Linked DNA regions of Homo sapiens. The protein of the gene in region 1 interacts with the protein of each later gene in a biochemical or structural test. Each region holds a gene or a part of one and is shown on either strand. Other genes may lie near its edges.

Region 1 (7,024 bases):
ACCTCGCGCACGGACAGCACCAGGTTGAGCTCACGCTCCAGCGTCTGGCGCACCTCCACGCTCATGAGCGAGTCCAGGCCCAGGTCCGCCAGTGAGCTGTCCAGGTTGACAGCAGCCAAGTCGCGGATGCCTGGAAGGGATGCGCCGGGTCGGCAACTCCAGAGGGGGCATGGGGACGGCCTGTATGCGGCAGGGCTGACACCCAGGGGTGCGTGGGCTGTGCATCTCCCAAAGCACCACCACCACAGTGACACCTGCGCCCGCACCCTGGCTCTGCAGATGGGGAAACTGAGGCGCACAGGGGCACGACTGCTATGTCCCAAGACCCTGATGCCAGCAGGGGAAACACCTGGCGCGGCTCCTACTGGGAGTGCTCACCCAGGATGTGTGCCACGGCCTCCACCAGGTCCCGCTGGCTGTCCCTGTCCCTATAGGCCGCAGCCTTCTCAGCCAGCACAAAGCTGCTCAGGACCATGTGGGGCTGGTTCAGGAAGAGGTCCAGCACCTCCAGGCAGGACGCCATGCGCTGGGGCAGCGTGCCACTGACGATCGTGTCGTTGGTGCTCATCGTCTCCACCAAAATGCCCACGTCGCCGATGGCGCCCCACTGCACGGCCAGGCCTGTGGGGGAGGGGGCAGGTGGGCAGAGCTGCGGGGAGGTCGGGGTGGGGAGTGGCCACTGGGAGAGGGTGGGGTGGGCAGGGCTGCGGGGAGAAGGTGGGGGTGGGGAGTGGCCACTGGGAGAGGGCAGGGTGGGCAGGGTCGAGGGGAGAGGGTGGGGCCCACCTGGGAGGCCTTCGTGCCGGCGTTTCTCACAGATACGCTCCATGGCGGAATTGGCAAAGCCGTAGTTGCTCTGTCCCGCATTGCCACGCCCGCAGCTCACAGAGGAGAAGACCACAAAGTAGTCCAGCTCAGGGCACGCCTCTCGGGTCACCCTGTGGGCACGCGTGTCACTCCCCATTGGCCAGCATCCCCAGGAGCCCCCAACGTCCCATCCCCAGGAAACGCCAGAGAGGGCTGTCAACAAACCACCTTGGCTCCCACGGCCCTGAGCCCAGAGCCCGGCAGAGGCGGGAGCAGGGCTGTGCGGTACCCACCTGTCCAGGTTCAGGGTGCCGCTGTACTTGGGCTTGCAGACGTCCTGGAAGAACTCTGGGGTCTGGTTCTCCAGCAAGCCATCTCTCAAGACCTGGGGGAGGCATCCTCAGCACTCCCTGCAGCTCCAGGGCCTCACCCGTCCACCCAGGGTCCCCCCCTTGGTCTTGGGGCTTTTGAGGGCCCCATTTGGGGCCTTCCCTCACCACGGCCAGGTTGAAGACGCCGCCCACGGGCCCAAGCTGCGCCGCCTCGGCAATGAGGCCCCGGGCCCCCTCCAGTGAGCTGATGTTGCTGGTGGACACCTGCACCTGTACGCCCTGGCGCCTCCACCGGCGGACCTGCTTGGCCTGGTAGCCTGCGGGACACAGGACTGTGGGCTGGACTGGGCCAGGGTACGGTCTCTTCCCTACACGCCGGGCTGGGGAAGTGGGGAGCAGCCGCAGAGCCCCATCCAGCAAGCCCCCCACAAGATGGAGGGGGACAGACCCCAGGCACCGTGACAGCCCACAATGGTGGGCTGCAGAGAAGGGCTCAGGGGCCCGGGGCTGTGCCTGGCCCAGGCTGGTCCACAAGCACCCCTGCCGACTCACCTGTCCGGATCCCGGAGCGAGAAGTCAACACGAGCTTCTGCACCCCACGCTGTATCAGCCACTGCGCCAACTCCAGGCCGAAGCCACCCAGACCACCAGCGATGATGTAGCTCTTGTGGGCCGGGCAGAAGGTCTTGGAGATGGCCGACATCAGCTTGGGTTTGGCCCCCTTCAGCACTGCCTCCGGCTCCTCCGCAAGCACCTGCGTCCAAGCAGCACCCACCGGCTCAGGCACTGCCTGGGGACCAGAGCCTGGGGTGCCCGAGGCGCCGGGACTCCTCCCCTCACCTGCACGACGACTTTGCCAATGTGCTTCCCTTGGGCCATGTAGCGGAAGGCGTCCTCCACCTGGGCCCCATGGAACACCGTGCACTTGAGGGGCCGTACCACCCCATCCCGGATGCCGGCCTGCACAAGCGCCCACACCTCCCGCCAGTCAGCACTGCTCTCGTTGAAGAACGCATCCAGTAGGACCCCGTGGAATGTCACGTTCTTCAGGAAGATAGCCATGCCTGCGGGCAGGGGCCGTGCTCACCCAGGGCCTTCCACAGGTCCACCCACACCCATCCATGCCCACCCCCGCCCAGGCGCTGCCGGCCTCACCGAGCGGGTGGTTCTGAGAAAGGTCGAATTTGCCAATTTCCAGGAAGCGACCGTGCGTAGCCAAGCACCTCACGCTGGCCTGCAGCTTCTCTTCCGCCAAGGAGTTCAAGACCAGGTCAACGCCTAGGGGGCCAGAGGGGCCAGACAATCACACCCACTGCAAGCCCAGCCACCACAGTCCAGAGGGCCAGACCCTGCTTCTCCCTGGGCCGGAGGCTAGGCAGGAGGCAGGTGGGGGCTGTGGGGGCCACTCACCCTTCCCGCCCGTGTGCCACAGCACATGCTGCTCGAAGGATGTGTCCCGGGAGTTGGCGAAGCTGGTGCTGTCGAGCTGGGGGAACCTGGCCTGGAGGTACGCCCGCTTCTCAGCCGACCCTGGTGAAGAGAGGAAGCGCGGCTGGTGAGCCAGGGCGGCGGGGCCAGGAGGGCAGCGGGAGGCACCGGGGGCGGGGCCTTACCCACGGTGGTGAAGACGCGGCAGCCCAGACTGAGGGCGATGGCGATGGCGGCCTGGCCCACGCCGCCCGAGCCCGAGTGGATGAGCAGCGTCTCCCCGGGGCGCACCCGCCCACGCACCACCAGCGCGTAGTAGGCCGTGCTGTAGACGACAGGCACCGAGGCCGCCTCCTCCAGCGTCCTGGGGATGCAGCAGGTGGGTCAGCACAGGCCTGGCCGCCATCCACGTGGGGCCCAGGCTCACACCCTCGACACACTCACCAGTTGGAAGGCACATCCCAGAGGAAGTCCGGTGACAGCAGGACAGAGGTGGCCAGGCCCTTGGCAGGCACCAGTCCCATCACACGCTTGCCGCTGGCGTCTCGGCCCGAGAACTCCATACCTAGCAGGCTGTCCTGGGAGGTCCACTTCCCTGGGGGAGACGGCACTGAGCCCCTCACCGCCTGCCCTTCCCTCCCGAGGGGCTCCCAGGCAGGTCCTAGCTGCTGGGGTCTCTGCTCCCCGGCCCAGTCCACTCCCACGGCCCCATGCCACCCATACCTGGGATGGCATCAGGGGACAGCTTGCCAGTGGCCAGCATGATGTCGCGGAAGTTGAGGGAGGCGTAGTAGACCGTGCAGAGCTGGGCGCCAGGGCAGGTGGGCTGGGCATGGCGCAGCGAGGAGCAGACCCAGCGGATGGAGGACAGGTCCCCCCGGGTGAGGGTGCTCACAAAGGCATGTGCCGTCGGCTCCTCAGGCTTGTCTAGGGAAACAGGGAGGTGGGGCTGCTGCGGGGCCTTCGGGTGCAGTCTCCCGGGAGGGGCAGGGCAGTGTCGGGGGCTCACCCTCCTCCAGCAGGAAGTGGCGGAAAGCCCCCCAGGCCCCGTCGCGGTAGACGTTCATCACCAGGTCTCCCTGCAACACCTTCTGCAGTTCTGCGGAGCCCGGGTCCACCTCCGGGACGTGGGAGGTGCTGCTGAGGTTGGAGAGCAGCACACACCTGGGGGCAGAGGCGGGGAGCTCAGGCTGGGGATGGGGAGGCTGGTGGGGAAGGGGAAGTGGTGAGGGGCCGTGCTCCTACCGGAGGCGGTTCCCGCCGGGCTCTCGGCGGAGACAGTTCACCAAGCCCACCACGCCCGAGGTGGCACAGTTGATGGCCTTCAGCCACACAGGCCGGGAAGAGTCTTCGTCAGCCAGGATGCCCTACAGCGGGTCGGGGAGGGTCAGGCCACACTCGGCAAGTTGGGAGGTGGGGTGGGGCCTGGAGGTGGGGCAGGGCCTGACCTTCAGAGACTCCACCCAGCGGAAGCTGGTATCGTCCACCGGCAGGAAGATGGGGCTGTCCTGCGGGGTGGGCCGGCGGCACAGGAAGAGCGTGGAGCCGTAGAAGGACTTCTTCAGGCCCACCAGGCGCAGCGACACCCTGGAGAAGAGGCTCTCCCACGCGTCCTGTGGGGGCGGTGGTCAGCACCCTGCCCGCCTGGCCCTCACCCGGCCCCCACCCTGTCCCCCTGCCCGGCGGCCGCACCTGGCTCAGGATGCCCTGGCCATACTGCGGCTCAGTGGAGGTGAGGAAGGCCACGATGTCCCCGAGGGGGTGCCCCCGGAGCAGTGTGTGCAGGAGCAGAAAGCCCCCTTCTCTCAGGGCAGCCACCATGTTGCTGAGAGCTGAGGCCGGGTCCCCGAGGGCAGCCACAGCACAGTTGCACACCAGGAGGTCGGCGCTGCCCAGGGCGCTGGGGGCAGGGTCTGCGGGATCCCACTGGCCCTGGGCAACGTCGTGCTGCTGCAGCTCGGCCTGGGCAGCCTCCAGGGCCTGGGGGTGGCGGTCGGTGGCCGTGTAGCTCAGCTGCAGCAGGGGATGGGGGCTGAGCAGGCCTGGGATGCGGGAATACAGGTGACCGTGGCCAGCCAGCACCTGTAGGGGGTGAATTCTGGAATCAGCCCCACACCAGGCAGGTGCCCCTGACCTGGGGCTGGGCAAAATGTCCATGAGGCCTCAGTCTGGCAGAAAGGCTTCCCCGTCAACCTGATGACGGTGCCAGCCATGGGCACGCATGGATGCCACTGGTCTTGTCCCTGGGGTCCTGCCTAGGCTGCACCTCTTGGAGCCCACGGGCGGACCCTCCACGGTGGCTGTGTGGACCGCACAGGACACGTGCACAGAACCACACAGGGAACTGGCCGGCCCCACCCACCGCCCAGGGCCCGCCCCGTGTCTGTGCTGTCTCCTGCAACTGATGTCAGGGTGGGTCCTACCATGTCCGGGGCAGAGGCCTGGCTGCCCAGGAGGCACCCACCTCCACCACCTTCATCTTCAGGCTGGGCATGTTCTCCACGGCAGTGTCCAGGCAGGCCTTGAGTGCCGGGGAGTCCAGGAGGCCGCTGAGCAGAGGGTCCTCTGGCAGCTTGGGCCTCTCCTGGGCCAGCACCTGCGCCAGCTCCAGCTGCAGGTTCCCGTTGAGCTGAAGCCTGCAGGCAGCCGACAACAGCCGGGGCAGTTCCTGCTGTGAGGGGTCCCGGGGGATCTGGGCCCCATCCAGTCCGGGCACCACCATCTTCAGCCCCTGCTGGGTCACCTTGGTCTGCAGTGCCTGCACCAGCCCTGGGGAGGGAGGGAGGCAGGCCTGGTGTTCCCAAAGCCCCAGGGCATCTGCCTGGCATGGGCTCTCAGACCCACTCTGTCCTTCTGGGGCCACCACCCCGCTCTGCCCACAGGATGAGAAATAGCTGAGGGTTGAGGAAGGGGCTGCCCACCACTGGGAGGCTGACTCCTGCCCACTGTGGACGCAGTGAGGGGCCGCATTCAGCTGCAGGGGCTACTCTGTGCCTAGCCAAGGTGTGACCTTAGGCTGAATCTGTCATCTTTGCCCCCAAGTACCCTTTCAAGACTGAGGAACAGTGACCAGGGACGAGGAAGGCTGGGGGCTGGGGGAGGGAGGGAGGCCGCCATCGTGAGCTCCGGCCGGAGGGTTGGGCTAGGGTTGCTGACCCCAAAGGGGGCCCCGTGGAGAAGCAAGTCTGGGGTCAACGTGAGGGGAGGCGATCGCTCCTCATCGCCAGAGGTGTCCGAAGCCAGCAGGGCTGGGACCTCACCCTTGCACAGTTGCAGCTCCTCCTGCAGGGCAGCGCGCTCAGACAGGCACCCCTCCTCCGTGTGGGGAGTGAAGCAAAACTTCTCCAGGATGGGCACCTGCTGCTCCTGCTGCCGCCGCGGGGCCGACTCAGTGTGGAGCCCGGAGATGTGGACGCCTCCGGCCACTGTGACCCTCAGCCACCTGCTCACCACCACGTCAGCCACTGTGGGGACAGGCTGGGTGAGTGCGGCATACTTGGGTGGGGGCACTGGGCTGGGGCTGGGGCGGGGCTACCTTGGGCCTTGTCCTGCAGTGTGTACAGCTTCTGCCTGTGGGTGGCAGGGTCGATGTGGATGGCGGTGACACGGGTGGGCAGGTACAGGCCGTGCTTGGCCGAGCCCAGGATGGACATCTGCAGCATGGTGTCCATGAAGCTCACCCAGTTATCCTTCCACAGCAGCCTCCCCGAGTCACCTGCACACAGGGCCTGGTTGGTGCTGTGGAACTCCCAGGTCCCTGGGGCCACCTCCCAGAGCCCACCGGGCCCCTCTGCTCCCTCCCAAGCTGCATGCCTAGCTGTGGGTGCCCTCTGTGGTCCCCACAATGACGACCGCCCTCCCCGGTGGCTTGGGCAGCAGTGTAGTCAGTACCCACCTTCCAGGCTGGCCTCCAGGATGCCCTGGAAATGAGGGCCGTAGTCGTAGCCACGCAGACGCAGCTCCTTGTAAACTTCAGCCTGGGCCAGGAAGAGGGGCTCCGTGGGGTTGGGGGTGGGGCTTTCCGGGTGGTCGAAGAGCCTGGGGTCAGGGTCATCCCACTGGTACACCTTCCCTGTGGAAAGGGAGGTGCGGAAGGGCCTGAGGACGGGCGGCATGGCCAGCGGGCACAGCCTCCGCAGCTCCCGTGCCACCGGCCCTGCTTACCACTCACTACCAGGTTGCCGTTCTCTGACACCTCGAAGGCACGGGAGGCCTCCAGGAGCCGTACCTCCAGGGACACTGTCCCTGCAGAGCGGGAGAGTTGGAGATCAGAGGGCAGCACCCGCCCCCCAGCTACCCCCGCCTTGGTCCTGGGGTACCCCTCACCAGTCTTGGGCAGGATGGTGGCCTGGTGCAGCACCACATCCTCAAACACCACAGGCAGCTGCTCGACGCCCAGGCCCAGGGCGCGGGCCAGCGTCTTCCACACTATGCTCAGGTAGCCAGTGGCGGGGAAG
Region 2 (7,024 bases), on another chromosome or scaffold:
GCTGAGGCAGGAGAATGGCGTGAACCCGGGAGGCGGAGCTTGCAGCGAGCGGAGATTGCCCCACTGTACTCCAGCCTGGGCGACAGAGCGAGACTCCATCTCAAAAAAAAAAAAAATTCCATCTCCCCAAGGACAGGGGCAGATGGGAATACGGTCCCCTCACTGAGTAGCCCACCTTGGAGGGAAGCACGCCCATTTGCACATAACACAGGGTCACTTTAAACTTCGCAGAAGCTTCCAGGAGTGTCCCTCCTTTCCTATCTAGCCAAGGAAGGAAGGCTAACCGTGCACATGCCGTCCTGAGATAAGAAACTGCACACACAGAGACACTCCCCAGACTCTGAAGAGCTGAAAATGCAATTTCAAATCTCCTTTTGGTGCAAAACACGGGCACTAAGTGGCCGGTTCTTGAAAGACAGGTCCACCCCCAGCCTGGACTGGAATTTCTCAGGAGCTGGGAGGTGAAATTTCGGTCCTGAAGATAATGAACTGTGCCCAGTAATGAATATCATCTGACTCTCCTTGACAGCTTTGGCCAGAGAGCTGCTTTTGGCTTTTGGCTGAGAGTGAGGTTCCCAGACAAGCCTTGCTGTTCCTGCAGACGCCGGAGGGTCTGGGTGCTCCTTCCTGCTGTGCTGCCGGTGGGTCACCGAAACAGCTGGACTCAACAGAGCACCGGGCTGAGCCAGCAGCACTCAGGCCTCAGAAACAGCTGGAGGCAGGGGAGCTCTTCTGCTGATCAACCGCAGTGCCCTCTGTTAGGAGCAGACACTGAGGCAAGAAAACGGATTTCACCCTAAAGGCACCTCCCTCTGGGTAAATCCAACGGGACTTGGGGCATGAATACCAAGGCAGTCAGTCCAGATAGTCCTACAAAATTATCTTAGGAACCTCAGGTTTTCCCCCAACATTTTGTATTTTTGTTTGTTTGTTTGTTTTTGAGATAAAGTCTTGCTCTGTTGCCCAGGCTTGAGTGCAGTGGTGCAATCTCAGCTCACTGCAACCTCTGCCTCCTGGGTTCAAGTGATTCTCCTGTCTCAGCCTCCCAAGTAGCTGGGATTACAGGCACCCGCCACCACACCTGGCTAATGTTTATACTTTTATTAGAGAGGAGGTTTCACCATGTTGGTCATGCTGGTCTCGAACTCCTGACCTCAGGTGATCCGCCTGCCTCGGCCTCCCTAAGTGCTGGGATTACAGGCGTGAGCCACCATGCCCGGCCTGTATTGTATTATTTTGTATTATTAAATACTTTACACATGCACAGAAAGGACTATAAAACTTCTATGAACACTCGAACAAAATTATTTACCAAACACGTGTAACCACCATCCAGGCCAAGAATTAAAGACAGCCAGACTAGGCACGGTGGCTCACACCAGTAATCCCAGCACTTTGGGAGGCCGAAGCAGGAGAACTGCTTGAGCCCAGGAGTTCAAGAACAGCCTCAGCAACGTAGTGAGTCCCTGTCTCTACAAAATAAAAAATAAAGACAGCGGCACCCTGGAAACGCTCCTTCTGGTTGCATCCCTGACAGATCTGGGTGCCTTCTTCCCGCCAGAGGGAACTACCAGCCTAATTGGTACGGCATCTTCCTCGATTTTCATTCAGTCTTATCCCTTATCAGGCTCTGTAGGGTCTCCCAAAGCATTGGGATTACAGGCATGAGCCACTGTGCCCAACCCGGGACAAGTCATTTTTTTGTTTGTTTTTTGTTTTTGAGACAGTCTTGTTCTGTCGCCCAGGCTGGAGTGCAGTGGCGCGATCTCAGCTCACTGCAACCTCGAGCAATTCTCCTTCCTCAGGCTCCCGAGTAGCTGGGATTACAGGCGCATGCCACCAAGCCTGGCTAATTTTTGTATTTTTTTTTAGTAGAGACGGGGTTTCACCATGTTGGCCAGGCTGTAATCCAGCCACCTCAGCCTCCCAAAGTGCTGGGATTACAGGCGTGAGCCACCGTGCCCAGCCTCCGGGACAAATTTTAATATGGATTCCATTTAACAAATCATTTTCTGGAAAACATGTGGCAAGAATATCTCTAACTGAAATTTTTTTTAACTGAAATTTTATCATATTAGCACTTTCGAAGCACAACTTTATATTCCTTAATGCACTATTATACAGACACTAGGTAGAAAATTACGAAAACTAGCAGTGTAGAAAAATGTCAAGTGAAAGGAACTAACTATAAAGACGCATATTCACTATGATGATAACTACATACAAAGCAATGCACAGGAAAAAAGGAAATATATTAAAATGCAACGGCTGTTAAAAGGGGTGGAACTACAGGTGATTTGTCTATGAAATTTTTGCGATTGTGGTTGTATCACTTGTATAACAAAATTTTCTGAAAGCACCAATTCACACAACAACAGCGCATTACTGGGTCTGATGACAACTCACTCATCAGGCTCCTGGTGGACACCCGCACAAATCAGGTTTTGGAAGATTCCTGGAAAATAACGTAACTGGGCTTCTTGAAAGATATTACCTAACCTGAGTTTCTCCGGCCCCTACAGTACTTCCTGGGGTTAATCAAACTTTGTGTAATTTCACTTCAGATTTCCATAACACACAAACTTCAAAATGCTTATAGGGAGCTAAAAAGACCCCCATTAAACCCCTGCTACACACAACAGAAACAGCAAAGTGCCTCCTCCCACCCAGTCAACAGAAAACAGCAGGAAGGGCAGACCAGATCCTCCCGGAGCTGAACACACACCCCTCCTCAGTCCTCCCAAAAGGGACCCTACCTGATATTTTAATGCCAATATTTTCCCAAAAACACTTCTCACAAAGCACTTCTGCCCTTTAAGTCTGGTTATGTGATTTTTTTTTTTTTGGTGATTCTATAGTAGAAATATGCAGAGCGTGGCCGCGCTCCAGTTTCTCAGAGGATGACAATGGACCAGGTGCAGTGGCTCACGCCTGTAATCCCAGCACTTTGGGAAGCCAAGGCGGGGGGATCACTGAGGTTCCAAGTTCGAGACCAGCCTGGCCAACATGGTGAAACCCCATCTCTACTAAAAATACAAAAATTAGCCAGGTGCGGTGGTGGACACGTGTAATCCCAGCTACTCGGGAGGCTGAGGCAGAAGACTCGCTTGAACCCGGGAGGCGGAGGGTGCAGTGTGCCGAGATCGCACCATTGCACTCCAGCCTGGGCAACAAGAGCAAAAACTTTGTCTCCAAAAAAAAAAAAAAAAAAAAAAAAGGTGACAGTGACAATGCTGGAGACCGACAGCCAGGCTCTCCATGCACTCTCGGGCTCTGTGCCTCCTACCTGCAGCCTCCAAGCTTCTAATCACCGCATGGCTCCTCTCAGACACAGCAGGTCCTGTGAAACCACCCACGTCCAGCCAGCACCACCATCACCCCCGGTCTCTTCCCACTACCCCAGCAAACAGGATGGGCAAACATCTCTTTTTGTGATGCTTTTCTCAGGAAAGACAAAATAATACCAAAACAGAATTCCCCTACCCGGAACACATCACTTTCTTGCTAACCACAAATTCTGGCAAAATCTGTTCTACATAACAGTGATTCAGTTAGTTCCTCTTTCTTCAAATTGACACGTTTTACCTTGCAAATTGTGTATGTGTGCGTGTGTGTGTGTGTGAGAGAGAGACAGAGAGAGAGAGAGGATGAGCAAGTTTAAAGACCAGTAACAAAACATATTTGCAGTGTTGTCAAGTCTTATCACATAAGAAATATAATACAAAAATTTATAAAAATGTAATTCTATTCAAATATTTGAGACTCTGCTACATAGCAGATAGTATTCTAGATACTGTGGTTAAAGAAAAATAGGTTTCTGTTTTCTGGAGAGAGCCAGAATTAAAAAAAGAAAAAAGTAACAAAACTATATAAACAAAATAAACTTGTAAAAAAAATAAAAATAAGTTTGCTCATCAGGAGTTTACTACCAAAATATGTGTCATGGCCAGTCACGGTGGCTCACACCTGTAATCCCAGCACTTTGGGAGGCTGCAGCGGGCGGATCACCTGAAGTCAGGAGTTCGAGACCAGCCTGGTCAACATGGTAAAACCCCGACTCTACTAAAAATACAAAAATTAGCTGGGCATGGTGGCACACGCCTGTAATCCCAACTACGGGGGAGACTGAGGCAGGAGTCACTTGAACCTAGGAGATGGAGGTTGCAGTGAGGCTAGATGGCACCACTGCACTCCAGCCTGGGCAACAGAGTGAGACTCTGTCTCAAAAAAAAAAAAAAAAAAAAAAGGGTCATGGAAGGGAGCGAAATGGGGCAGAAGGTTTTGTCCCTAATGCAAACAATACTGTGGGGCATAATTTAATCACCATAAAATGAACAAATTTTTTTTTTTTTTTTTTTTTGAGCTGGAGTCTTGTTCTGTCAACCAGGCTGCAGCGCGGCACCATCTCGGCTCACTACAACCTCTACAACCTCTGCCTCCCAGGTTAACGCAATTCTCCCACCTCAGCCTCCCGAGTAGCTGGGATTACAGGCACTCGCCATTATGCCCAGCTAATTATTGGATTTTTGTACAGACGGGGTTTCACCATGTTGGCCAGGCTGGTCTTGAATTCCTGACCTCAGGTGATCCGCCCACCTCGGCCTCCCAAAGTGCTGGGATTACAGGCGTGAACCACCAGGCCCAGACACAAATCTTTTTTTTAAATAGGGATGGGGTCTCACTCTATTGCCCAGGCTGGCCTCAAACTCCTGGCCTGAAGTGATCCTCCTGCCTTAACCTCCCAAAGTGTTAGGATTACAGGTGTGAGCCACCACACCCTGCTCAAAATGTATAAATAGGCCCAGTGGGGTGGATCACCCCTGTAATCCCAGCACTTTGGGAGGCCAAAGCAAGTGGATCACATGAGGTCAGGAGTTTGAGATCATCCTTCCTGGCCAACATGGCGAAACTTCGTCTCTACTAAAAATACAAAAATTAGCCAGGTGTGGTGGCACACGCCTGTAATCCCAGCTACTGGGGAGGCTGAGGCACAAGAATCACCAGAACCAGCCGGGCGCGGTGGCTCACGCCTGTAATCCCAGTGCTTTGGGAGGCCAAGGTGGGCAGATCACCTGAGGTTGGGAGTTCGAGACCAGCCTGACCAACATGGAGAAACCCCGTCTCTACTGAAAATACAAAATTAGCCAGGTGTGGTGACGCATGCCTGTAATCCCAGCTACTCAGGAGGCTGAGGCAAGAGAATTGCTTGAACCCGGGAGGAGGAGGTTGCGGTGAGCCGAGATCGCGCCATCGCACTCCAGCCTGGACAACAAGAGCGAGACTCCATCTCAAAAAAAAAAAAGTATAAACTTTAAGTGACAGCGCAATGAATTCTGACCAACGTATTCACACAGAGAACAGACCTGACATGAGCGAGCAGCTGCAGGTAAGGGTTGATGGGAGCCCAGGGTGCATGGAAGTCGCCCAGGCAAGAGGGGAAGGCTCGGGGCAGGGGTGAAGGAGCCCCGAGGGTCAGCAAAGGCCCTGGACCTGCCTCAATGACACTCAAGGAGTCATCGCCAGGTCAACGCGGACAAACAGCACGGAGCTTCCGAACCGAATGGAATGTATGGAATGCCATGGGATGAGCCGCAAGTGAAGCGTGACTCACCCTCGTTCTAAAGAGTCAATGTAGGGCCGCAGGACTGTATACGGCAGAGCCAGGATACGCCGTGGTCATCTGTACATATTTCTATCCATGTATTAATCGATCCCGAGAAATCAGGCTGGACGACCAAGCACACTTACCACACTCACTGCCGTTCTCGCTGGATGTCACAATCATTGAGCTTCATGACCTAAGAACAGGCCCTGAAAAAAACCCTTATCCTGCATAGTCAGAGGACAGAATGTTCCGGTCAATCAGATATTTTGACAGGAATAGTTTCAATATAAAATCCAGCCAGGCTCGGTGCCTCATGCCTGAAATCCCAGCACTTTGGGAGGCCCGGGTGGGAGGATTGCTTGAGGCCAGGAGTTCCACACCAGCCTGGGCAACACAGCCAGACTGTCTCTACAAAAAATTTTAAAAATTGGCCAGGCGTGGCTGGGCGCAGTGGTTCACCCCTGTAATCTCAGCACTTTGGTAGGCCGAGGCAGGCAGATCATGAGGTCAGGAGATCAAGACCAACCTGGCTAACACGGTGAAATGCCATCTCTACTAAAAATACAAAAAATTAGTCAGGTGTGGTGGCAGGCACCTGTAGTCCCAGCTACTCAGGAGGCTGAGGCAGAAAGAAGAATGGCGTCAACCCAGGAGGTGGAGCTTGCAGTGAGCCAAGATCGCACCACTGCACTCCAGCCTGGGCAAAAGAGTGAAACTACGTCTCAAAAAAATAAATAAATAAAAATAAAAGGAACAAAAGAAAGCTAGAGAATATACTACGCTAGGGAAACATGAGCACACTTATATAAGGAAGTATATGTTTCCTGAGTACATATATGAATAAAATGTGAAAACAGAACTAAAACGGTCCATCCCAAACTGAGAACAATGGTCACCTCTCAGGTACAGACAGGAGATGATGGCAATTAGGATGGGACTTTCACTTAATCTACAATGTTCTATTCTTTTTTAAAGAAAATACATTTGTCCATGTATGGCATAACTGAAAATTAAGTTTTTATAAAGAGGGTTGCCCTAGAGAGCATTCACAGCTTAAGCTTCAAAGAATTCAAATAGAATGAGACTCTTAATGTGGAAAAGTACAACAAGCACATTTTTTTCTGGCAACACCGAAGATGCAGGAGATTTCACAGTTCCCACATGAATACCACCAGTGGGCTCTGGCTGTGTGGCCAAAACTCTAGAGAAGAGGAAATTCACTGTATACCCGTAAGGCACAACCACTCCTTCAAACCAACCTTAGTGAACGTGTAAGTCACACACATAGTCTCCGGACAATATTCAGAGACTTAACTTTTTTCTTTGCTGTTTTTGTTTTTGTTTTCTTTTTTAAAAATTTGAGACAGGATTTCGCTACGTTGTCCAGGCTGGTCTCTAGCGCCTGGGCTCGGGCGATCC

The links. The genes of interacting proteins can lie anywhere in the genome.
Region 2: the proteins of FASN (region 1) and SNX8 form a complex in vitro, tested with the Homo sapiens proteins (one study listed by BioGRID).

The regions. Positions count from the first base shown.
Region 1 is NC_000017.11:82,081,223-82,088,246, forward strand, and holds part of FASN (fatty acid synthase), read right to left. Parts: coding exon 6,894-7,024; intron 6,813-6,893; coding exon 6,732-6,812; intron 6,640-6,731; coding exon 6,463-6,639; intron 6,283-6,462; coding exon 6,103-6,282; intron 6,032-6,102; coding exon 5,828-6,031; intron 5,337-5,827; coding exon 5,032-5,336; intron 4,650-5,031; coding exon 4,260-4,649; intron 4,181-4,259; coding exon 4,016-4,180; intron 3,935-4,015; coding exon 3,813-3,934; intron 3,732-3,812; coding exon 3,577-3,731; intron 3,495-3,576; coding exon 3,291-3,494; intron 3,163-3,290; coding exon 3,012-3,162; intron 2,932-3,011; coding exon 2,753-2,931; intron 2,670-2,752; coding exon 2,550-2,669; intron 2,418-2,549; coding exon 2,295-2,417; intron 2,204-2,294; coding exon 1,980-2,203; intron 1,894-1,979; coding exon 1,692-1,893; intron 1,457-1,691; coding exon 1,305-1,456; intron 1,193-1,304; coding exon 1,101-1,192; intron 939-1,100; coding exon 787-938; intron 622-786; and 3 more. UniProt on the Homo sapiens protein: Fatty acid synthetase is a multifunctional enzyme that catalyzes the de novo biosynthesis of long-chain saturated fatty acids starting from acetyl-CoA and malonyl-CoA in the presence of NADPH.
Region 2 is NC_000007.14:2,304,442-2,311,465, forward strand, and holds part of SNX8 (sorting nexin-8), read right to left. Parts: intron 5,633-7,024; exon of another isoform or gene 5,612-5,632; intron 5,516-5,611; exon of another isoform or gene 5,416-5,515; coding exon of another isoform or gene 5,364-5,415; intron 1-5,363. UniProt on the Homo sapiens protein: May be involved in several stages of intracellular trafficking. May play a role in intracellular protein transport from early endosomes to the trans-Golgi network.